Linked DNA regions of Homo sapiens: region 2 is linked to region 1. Evidence: fine-mapped expression QTL. A gene starts in region 1. The other region holds a variant in brackets. All regions are shown on one strand. Distances are between the middles of the regions.

Region 1 (4,394 bases):
CTCTTGTGTTGACAAGGATAAGAGGCACCTAGAACTCTCTCATATTGCTGGCAAAGGCGTAAATTGGTACAATCATTTTGAAAAACTGGCAATGTCTACTATCACTGATCATGTGCATACCCTCCCTACACACTAGCAATTCCTCTCCTAGAAATGTGTGCAAGTGTCTACAAAAAGAAACATGTAAGAATGCTCACTACGGCTTTGCTAATAATAGTCCAAAAAATAACAACCCAAATGCCCGCCAACAGTGGAAAAGATAAATTGTGGTATAAACATACAACAGAATACTATTCAGCAATTAAAAGGCTACACACAACATGGATGAATTTCACAAAAATACTGATAAAGTAAAAAAGCCAGACACATACTGTACATACTGTATTATTATATTTAACTGGAATTCAAGAACAGAGAAAACTGATCTATGGTGATACAGTCAGAAGAGTGATTATCTCAATATGTAAGGATGTAATACTGATTGGGAGGGAGCACTAAGTGTGCTAGAAATGTTCTATATCTTGATTTGGGTAGTGGCGACAGGGGTGTATACCTATGTGAAAATTGTTCCCATACTGTATGTTACACCTCATTAACAAAAAAAAAACTTTTTTAACATGGAAAAAAAATTCAAGTTCAAATGCCACCTTGTCCATTAAAGTTTTGCCAGCTGCAATGAACCTTTTCATCAGGGCCTCCTTAGCATTCTGATGTCATTTCTTTATGCCATTTTATCACACTCCATCTTGAATCTCAGTGGAGTCTCCTTATTTCCCTAAATATATGTTCATCTTCCTGGTGGCAGTGACCATGTCCTTCACCTTTTACCCACTCAGTGCCTGACAAATAACAGGCTGAAAAGATATTTGTTGAATTACATGGAAGAAAAAATTGGGTGAGTTCCCAGATGGGTGAAAGTGGGGACAGGCAGAGGAAGGAAGGCCAAGAGAAGGACAGAGGAGGTTTCCAAGGAAACCGTGGCTCACACTGTAATTTTACCTACTTCCTGAAATCACATTAAATGTCACCTTGAGTGGCAAAAAACAAAACACCAAATCCTACCTAGGCTGAAAATAAATAAATATCACACTCCCTCACTCGCAAGAAATCCACCAAATAAATGCTACCTAATTCTGGGTGTTTCAACAGTGGATAGGAAAACCGTTCAAGGAGAATAATTCACATTGCCATGCTGCTAAAAATATCACCTCCTTAGTGTGGTGCAAAGAGTCCAGACTGCAAGTCAGCCGACTTAGGGCTGAATTCTAACTCTGCCCGAACTTGCTGTGATCTGTGGCCAATCCCTTCGCCTCTCTGGGCCTCAATTTCCTCATACGTAACAACAGGGGATAGATTAGCAAAGTCCCTTTATGTTTTGATATTCTGAGTATACAATCCATAGCTCTCCCGGTGCAAACCAGGAATACAGCAAAAAACCCTGAAATACATGTAAAAGGCGCCTCAGACCAACAAACAAGCACGATTTGAAGAAGTCATTTTGTTCTCTTTCACGGTTTAATCAGTGTTTTTGTTTGTTGTTTGCAGCCTTACCATGATTTGCAGATGTCTGAGTTCCATGTAAACAGAAGTTAACTCTCTGCGGGCTGTCATCTTCTTTTGAGGGTGAGAAGGGTCTTCCCGTTGGGTTTCAAGTCTCGGGATTCCGAAACGACCAACTCAGCGGGCGGGTTTGTGAATTTGCGCACACTGCGCGGCACACTGGAGTCTAAGTTACAGAGGAACCGAGTGCAGGGGATGCTGGGATTTGTAGTCCCCGGGCCTCTTTGTGGTGCGCTGGGATCTGTGGTCCCCCGAGTGCGCCGCTGGAATGCTGGGAAATGTAGTCTCTGTCGCGTCGCACAGTGCAACTCAGCTGCCGTCTCAGACGGCTAGTGTGCTCAGTGGCTGGAGCAGGTCCCTAAAGCCTCTGCAGATCCGAAGCCAACCCTCCGCTGGGACAAACTCTAGGCAACAACACCAGATGAATATTGTGTCCTATGGGACTTCCCGGGGAGGGCCCTTCCCATTGACGTTAACAGTCCCCCTGCGAAGCCGCTGCGCGCTCCTACTGGCTGGTTGAGATGCCAATCGCCAAGGCTGGCTTTCCATTGGTTCCAGGAGGGCACTGCGAGGCTAGGGGGAAGGAGAAGGGATCAGAAGCGGGAGCTGAGGGGAGAGAGAGGCCGGTCCTGGTCTGGCCGCTGCGGCTGCTAGCCCGAGGTCTCCAAGCCGGGCTGCGGCTCCATCCTCGGCTCCTGGGCACCGTCTGCGAGGCTCCGCCGACCAGAGTGAGAAAGCCGCGGGCGGCGACCGCCGCATCATGTCAGCCAAGGACGAGCGGGCCAGGGAGATCCTGAGGGGCTTCAAACTGTATCCGTCCGGGAGCGGGGCGGGGCCGGGAGGACTTGGGAGGCGGCCGCTCACTGAGGAGACTGGCCGGGGGCGGGGGCCGCGCCAGGTGGGCCCCACAGAAGAAGGGCCGCGGGAGGGGAGAGGAAAGGAACAGCGTGCCGAGCACCCGGCGGGACCCGGCGCGAGAGGCGCCCCAAGGGGCGTCCTGAGGGAGGAAGGGGACGTTGACGGGAGCGCCGGGGGGTGGCGGGTGGAGACGGGGGAGCCTGGGGGACGGGGCTGCGAGAGGTGCCGGGCGTCGGAAACGCTGTCGGAGAAGCCGGCTGGGTTCCGATCCCCGGCCGGGACCCAGAGGCCGGGATGGGGCTGCGGCCCGCGGAGAAGGGCTGAGGGGGCGCGGTGGGCTGATCTCGAAGCCTAGAAGCCTCTTTGGCTATAAGCCTACCCGGGGAGCGGGGAACAGTGACTTGGAGCGGGCGACCTTGTGTGGGACAAATACCAGTGCTTTTAAAACTCTCTCAGGTCCCCCACCGCACCGCACCGCACCCCACCCCCGTCTGGTTTCCACAACTTCTCTTCCAAACTTGTGGCTTCTTCCAGGACTGGAGTAGTTGGGGGAGGTGGGGAAAGAGAAGTCCAAGATCGACCTCGTCTTAACACTCTTGGCCTTCTCAGGCATTGGTCACTGCTTCCCCCTCAGCGCCTCAGTTTTCTTTCCAGCAAGATGAGGACCATAGGCTTAGGTGTGGGGTGCCTCGCGCTGGGACTCCTAGCCGAGGTGTCTTTGCTCGCTCCTGTCGGTGCGGTTATGCCTAGCTGTGGTGGAGCTGTCCAGCAATGGTGTGATGTCGCTGGGGCCACGGTAGGATAGAGTGGGGTAGAGAAATCATTGCCTCGGGCCTGTTGTGGTGCCCCTTTTGCATCCTCTCCGTAAGGAAGCTTTGTGTTTTCGTGGAGTGTGTTAGTCTGTCACCATATGATGCAGATGAAAAAATGCAAACTTGGATATTCAAATTTTCCATTCTCCTGCCAACTTTAATCTCTTCATGCATCCTATCTGTAATCTATAGTACGAACGTTCTTAAATTGCTCCCTCAGTGAAAAGGTAGTCACCACTTCAGGGCTCCTCCCTTGGAGGTTTAGTAAAGCACTGTTTTCTTGGTATTCTGTTGCGTTTTCACAATGTCCATGTCACGCTTGCAAATTTAATTGCTTTGCTATAATCAGAAACCAAGTTGGTAATACATTTTAGACCACAGTGCAAAAAGGAAGTTTTGGATGTACAAGTGAGATTTTTCGAATGGAAATTGATCTATGCTTTTTAAAAAAACTAAAGGCTGTATCACCTTTGCATACTACCATCTGTGATAAACTTTCAGTACTTTCATGTTTTGGTTTAGTAGCAGCCTCTTTTATAGCTCCATGTGCCTTTCTGTGTTTCTCTCCATAATGGATCAAATAGGTATATAGGGATGACTGAAGTGCTGGAAAAGCTATGACATGGATTTTATTTTTCCCTCAAATAATTTATACTATTAACATCTAACAATGTAATAATATTGCTACTTAACATGCTTTGTAGACAGTAAACCGGAAACTGGAGAATTGAGAGATTTCAGAAGCAACGTTTTCATCTGATTGGAAATACCGTATTGCTGAAAAGAAGAAAGGCCTTTTTAATGGCTTTTGAACAAAGCAGAAAAGTTTGAGCTTCTCACCTTCAGTCTTAGCTCTTGAACCTGTTGAGAAAGAGGATAAGAGACAAATACGGAAAAGAGTTTCAGAAAGCAGAATCTGTGTCAGCCCACTGGAAGGAAAAGCGAATCAACCGATTCAGTGATGTTAGTGCATCCAGAAACAGGCTTTTGGGAAAAGCTTGACCTGAGCTGATTAAATCCTGAAGCACAAGGGAAGCAGCCACATCAAAAAGTTAGCATGAGAGCAGTGGCGTGCTCATCCTCTGGTAGCCTTTACTGGGCATTTGTGGAGTAAGAGAGAAAAGAAAAGCAGGAATGTTAAGATATGCTACTACCTTCAGGAAA
Region 2 (4,394 bases), 36 kb after region 1:
GAGGCTTTTGTGCCTAGGGCATAGTGATTGAGGGGCCTTGTAGACCATGGAAAGAACTCGATTTTTTTAAGTGCAGAGGAAAGCCAGGGATTGACATCTAACTTACAGTTTTAAAAGACCCTTTCCTTCTATGAAGAGAATGGAGAAGGAGGCAAGAATAGAAGCGGGGAAAACCAGTCAGAATGCTAGATGGGAGACAATAAAGAATTAATTGTCATTGATAATAATAATAGCTAACACATGGCTTACTAATGCCAAGGACTGTTGTAGCACATTTTATGAACCAGCTCATTTAAATGTGCTCTTCAGTTAGCACACTCTTTCATTCTTTAAAGTATCATAGGTCGGGTGTGGTGGCTCACGCCTGTAATCCCAGCACTCTGGGAGGACGAGGCAGGCGGATCACCTGAGGTCAGGAGTTCAAGACCAGCCTGGCCAACATGGTGAAACCCCGTCTCTACTAAAAATACAAAAATTAGCCAGGTGTGGTGGCGCATGCCTGTAATCCCAGCTACTCAGGAGGCTAAGACAGGAGAATCGCTTGAACCCGGGAGGCGGAGGTTGCAGTGAGCCGAGATCGCACCACTGCACTCCAGCCTGGGCAACAAAGAGCGAAACTCCATCTCAAAAGAAAAAAAGTATCATCGTTTGGATGATAAATTACACGAAACTATGAACCAGCCAATTAACATTTTCAGAGGAGCTTAACACTTGGAATACTTAGTCTTCCTCCTGTTCTCATCAATTTCAAACTGTCTTGTGAAACTCACTAACCCAGACAGCTATACAGTATTAAAGTAGGAAGAAAACTGTATGGGATCTATCTCCAAATTTTCGGAGACTCTTCCTTTTTGTTGCCTTCTGTCCTGGCTCTGTCTCTTGGTTCTGAGTTGTATGTGGGCCTTTCTGTGTTTTTTCTCAGTCTTTTTTTCCCCTTCACTCCGTCCCTGTGTCTCTCCTGTGTGTGTCCCCCGTGTTTCTTTTCTCTTTCTGCTTTTTGTCTTCCCCATTCCTTCTCACTCTCTGTTCTCTTACCCTGATTTCTCTTTCTTCCTCCTTCAACTGGCCGGTGAGGTACGGGCATGTAGTGTGGATCTGTTTATTATATAAAAAATGATGTTGACTATTTCCATTTAAAACGAATCAAGTCTCTCAGAACCAGTGTACTCATTCCAAAATACTCATAGATGATTGTTACAAACTACTTTAACAGGAGTGTCCAATCTTTTGGCTTCCCTGGGCCACATTGGAAGAAGAATTATCTTGGAGCACATGTAAAATACACCAACGGGCCAGGCACTGTGGCTCATGCCTGTAATCCCAGCACTTTGGGAGACCGAGGCAGGTGGATTGCTTGAGGTCAGGGGTTTGAGACCAGCCTGGGCAACATAGTGAAACCCCGTCTGTACTAAAAATACAAAAAATTAGCCGGACATGGGGGCGGGCACATGTAATCCCAGCTACTCAGGATGCTGAGGCAGGAGAATCACTTGAACCTGGGACGTGGAGGTTGCAGTGAGCCGAGATTGCACCACTGCACTCCAGCCTGGACAACAGATTGGGACTCCGTCTCAAAAATAAAATAAAGTAAAATAAAAATTAAAAAATAAAATACACTGACGATAGCTGATGAACTAAAAAATAAATAAAAAAGTTTTAAGAAAGTTTACAAATTTGTGTTGGGCCACATGCAGCCCAGAGGCCATGGGTTGGACAAGCTTGGTTCAAATCATTTTATTATCCTGTTTTCTACTTTCACATCTCTCAAGGAAATTTACCTAGTACCCCGTTCATCTAACTGATCTCTTCTGATCCCCAATCCTTCCCTTCCCATTCTACCACCCACCTCCTTCACTGCCTTCTATACCTCAAGTCTGCCCCCAGCTCCAGCACCAGACTGCACCTAAATCACACCAGGTCACAACTATTCTGTAAGACACAAGAGGATTTGCGTAACCTGTGTTGAGCCAAGTGTCACCCATTCTTCCATAATATTTATGGAATATTTACTTCCTTTTTTACCTTTCCTAACGCTTAATACTTTGCAAACTATTGGTTTTGTTCTGAAGCTTACTTTTAAGATATTCTTATTTTACATACGAAAGTGCTTCCTTATGTTTGCCTGGTTCCAAATTAGAGGGTACCAGAGCCCGATCTCCTCTAAGCAGGAGGCTTCCCATAGGAAAGGAATGTTCCTTTGTGCTCATCCTTCGTATAAATCACCAGGGAGCTTTTAAATGAACAAAGACCTGGCTGACCCAGAGGGTAGAACTTATAAATAGTACTCCAGCCCCTCCTTTAAAGCCTGTCCACCTAATCCTCCTCTCAAGATTGGAAGTGACTTGACCTTTGAGTCTTAAAACTCAGGCTCTTTTTCTCTAAAAAATCTGGTTAGCAGTAAGCTGTTAAAACAAATATGTTTTTAGCCAGATGATGACCAATCATCAAAGCTTGTCTTTCATTTCTAGCATTTTTAGCCAAATGTTTCCTCGGTTTTTTTTGTGTGTTTTTGTTTTTGTTTTGGCTCCTCAGAAGTCAACTTGAAGTTTCCTCTTTTGAGGACCAGCTTTTCTC[A/G]TTGTTATTATTTTAAGACATCTACCTTAATAACTTTTATTTCTCCTTACTAATAGACTATTATGGATTTCCATTTTATAAAGATGTTCCCAAATTGCTGCATTTCTACCATGAACTAAGGGCTTCCTTTTCACCCCTAAAATTACAGAACTTAGAGGGGCCTTCAATGGCCTCAATCCCAACGTCGTTGGATGGAGCTCTCTTTGTATTTCTCTAATGCTGTATTGAGGATAAAATCTTACAAAACTTGTTAAGGATTAAAATGTGCAAGGATTATAAAATGATGCACATGATATAGATACTGGTAGATAATTTTCCAGATTAGGGCACATGCAGGAATAACTATGTATATTGAACTGGCTAAACATATAAATATATTTTATAGAATATATTTTTATGTGATTCCCAAAAAGATAAGCAATTAGGGCCGGGCACGGTGGCTCAACGCCTGTAATCCCAGCATTTTGGGAGGCCGAGGCAGGCAGATCACCTCAGGTTGGGAGTTCGAGACCAGCCTGACCAACATGGAGAAACCCCATCGCTACTAAAAATACAAAATTAGCCGGGCATGGTGGCGCATGCCTGTAATCCCAAATACTCAGGAGGCTGAGGCAGGAGAATCACTTGAACCCGGGAGGCGGAGGTTGTGGTGAGCCGAGATCGTGCCATTCACTCCAGTCGGGGCAACAAGAGCGAAACTCTGTCTCCAAAAAAAAAAAAAAAAGAAAAGCAATTAAGTCCTTAACCTGGTTATTTACAGAGAAAAGACATTCATGTTGTGGAAATCAACCATGTATTTTTAGCTACTTCTCTCCCTTGAAATAAGGGGAGCTTAAATTTACTATTCACTAAATGCCAGATAGAAGACTAATTTAAAACATCTTTCTTTTTTATCATTTAATACATAGATTGAAGAGTAAGTCCTGGCCCCAGGCTTTGCTTTTCTGACCTCTGCCAGTCACAGTAGTGCTTTTTCTGGAAGTTCAGTCTGCTCCAACTGCAGCTTTGTGCAGGGACCCTCCGGGACTTTTCTAGTTTTGCTAGAATGCCTCATCTGCCTGTGAGCCTGGAACTGTAGAAGTCATTTTAGTTTTGTTTAGTCTTATTGTTTAATTTAAGAAAGTCTGATGTCCATGTTGCCGTAGTGGGTACATAGGACACTATCGGCTGTGAAAGAATGAAAAGCTTGTTCAGAGAAGGTCGAATGAGGACTATGTCTTCAGAAAACCTTGGGCTTAGCTGCCTGGGACAGTTTAGATCTGAGCTCAGAGGGGATTGATAGAGCAGTAGTATCTGTTGTTTTCCTTCTGCCGTTGGGAAGCTTTCTCTTAACATATAGAGACCCTGGGATGTGTGAGCATATTTATAGTAATTATAATTGTGAGACATGACCTAAGGAAGTATGTGAACTTGCTTTTGAATTTAGTTGTTTAAAAAAAAAAAGTGGAGTTTGAAAATATGAACCAGAGGAAGGCAGATCACACGGGTGGAGAGGAACGGCACTGTCTGGAGATGTATTGAGCATAGAAGGAGAGTTTGTTAGGAATTGCACACCCTGAGGGGAGAATGACACAGCCAATGTGATCTGAAAGCGACAGTACATTCATGCAGGGATGCCCACAAGCAGGTTGAGTGCACAGAAAGATAGACTCCTCATCACATTGCAGGCACTCTGCTGAATAACCCTTTGTTATATTTTGAGACTTTTCTTTTTTTTTTTTTTTTTTTTTGAGACGGAATCTTGCTCTGTCGCCAGGCTGGAGTGCAGTACATGATCTTGGCTCACTGCTCACTGCAACCTCCGCCTCCTCTGTTCAAGC

What was found. PIP is the estimated chance that this variant, and not a neighbour inherited with it, causes the effect. A credible set is the group of variants that fine-mapping cannot tell apart.
Region 2: its variant is the best candidate, but not a certain one, in a credible set for the expression of PDE6D in whole blood (TOPMed, PIP 0.56).

The regions. Positions count from the first base shown.
Region 1 is chr2:231,779,041-231,783,434 of GRCh38, reverse strand. PDE6D (phosphodiesterase 6D) reads left to right here and starts at 2,153. Exons shown (of 5, transcript NM_002601.4): 1 at 2,153-2,370. The coding sequence starts at 2,321. It also overlaps a transcript of COPS7B not described here. RefSeq lists enhancers at 2,127-2,356, 2,907-2,986 and silencers at 2,567-2,616, 2,740-2,963.
Region 2 is chr2:231,743,339-231,747,732 of GRCh38, reverse strand. The region is part of intron 1 of PDE6D (phosphodiesterase 6D); the gene reads left to right. Among named protein-coding and RNA genes, the nearest start is that of MIR1244-1, 32 kb to the right of the region's middle. The variant A/G (reference allele first, on the strand shown) is at 2,575.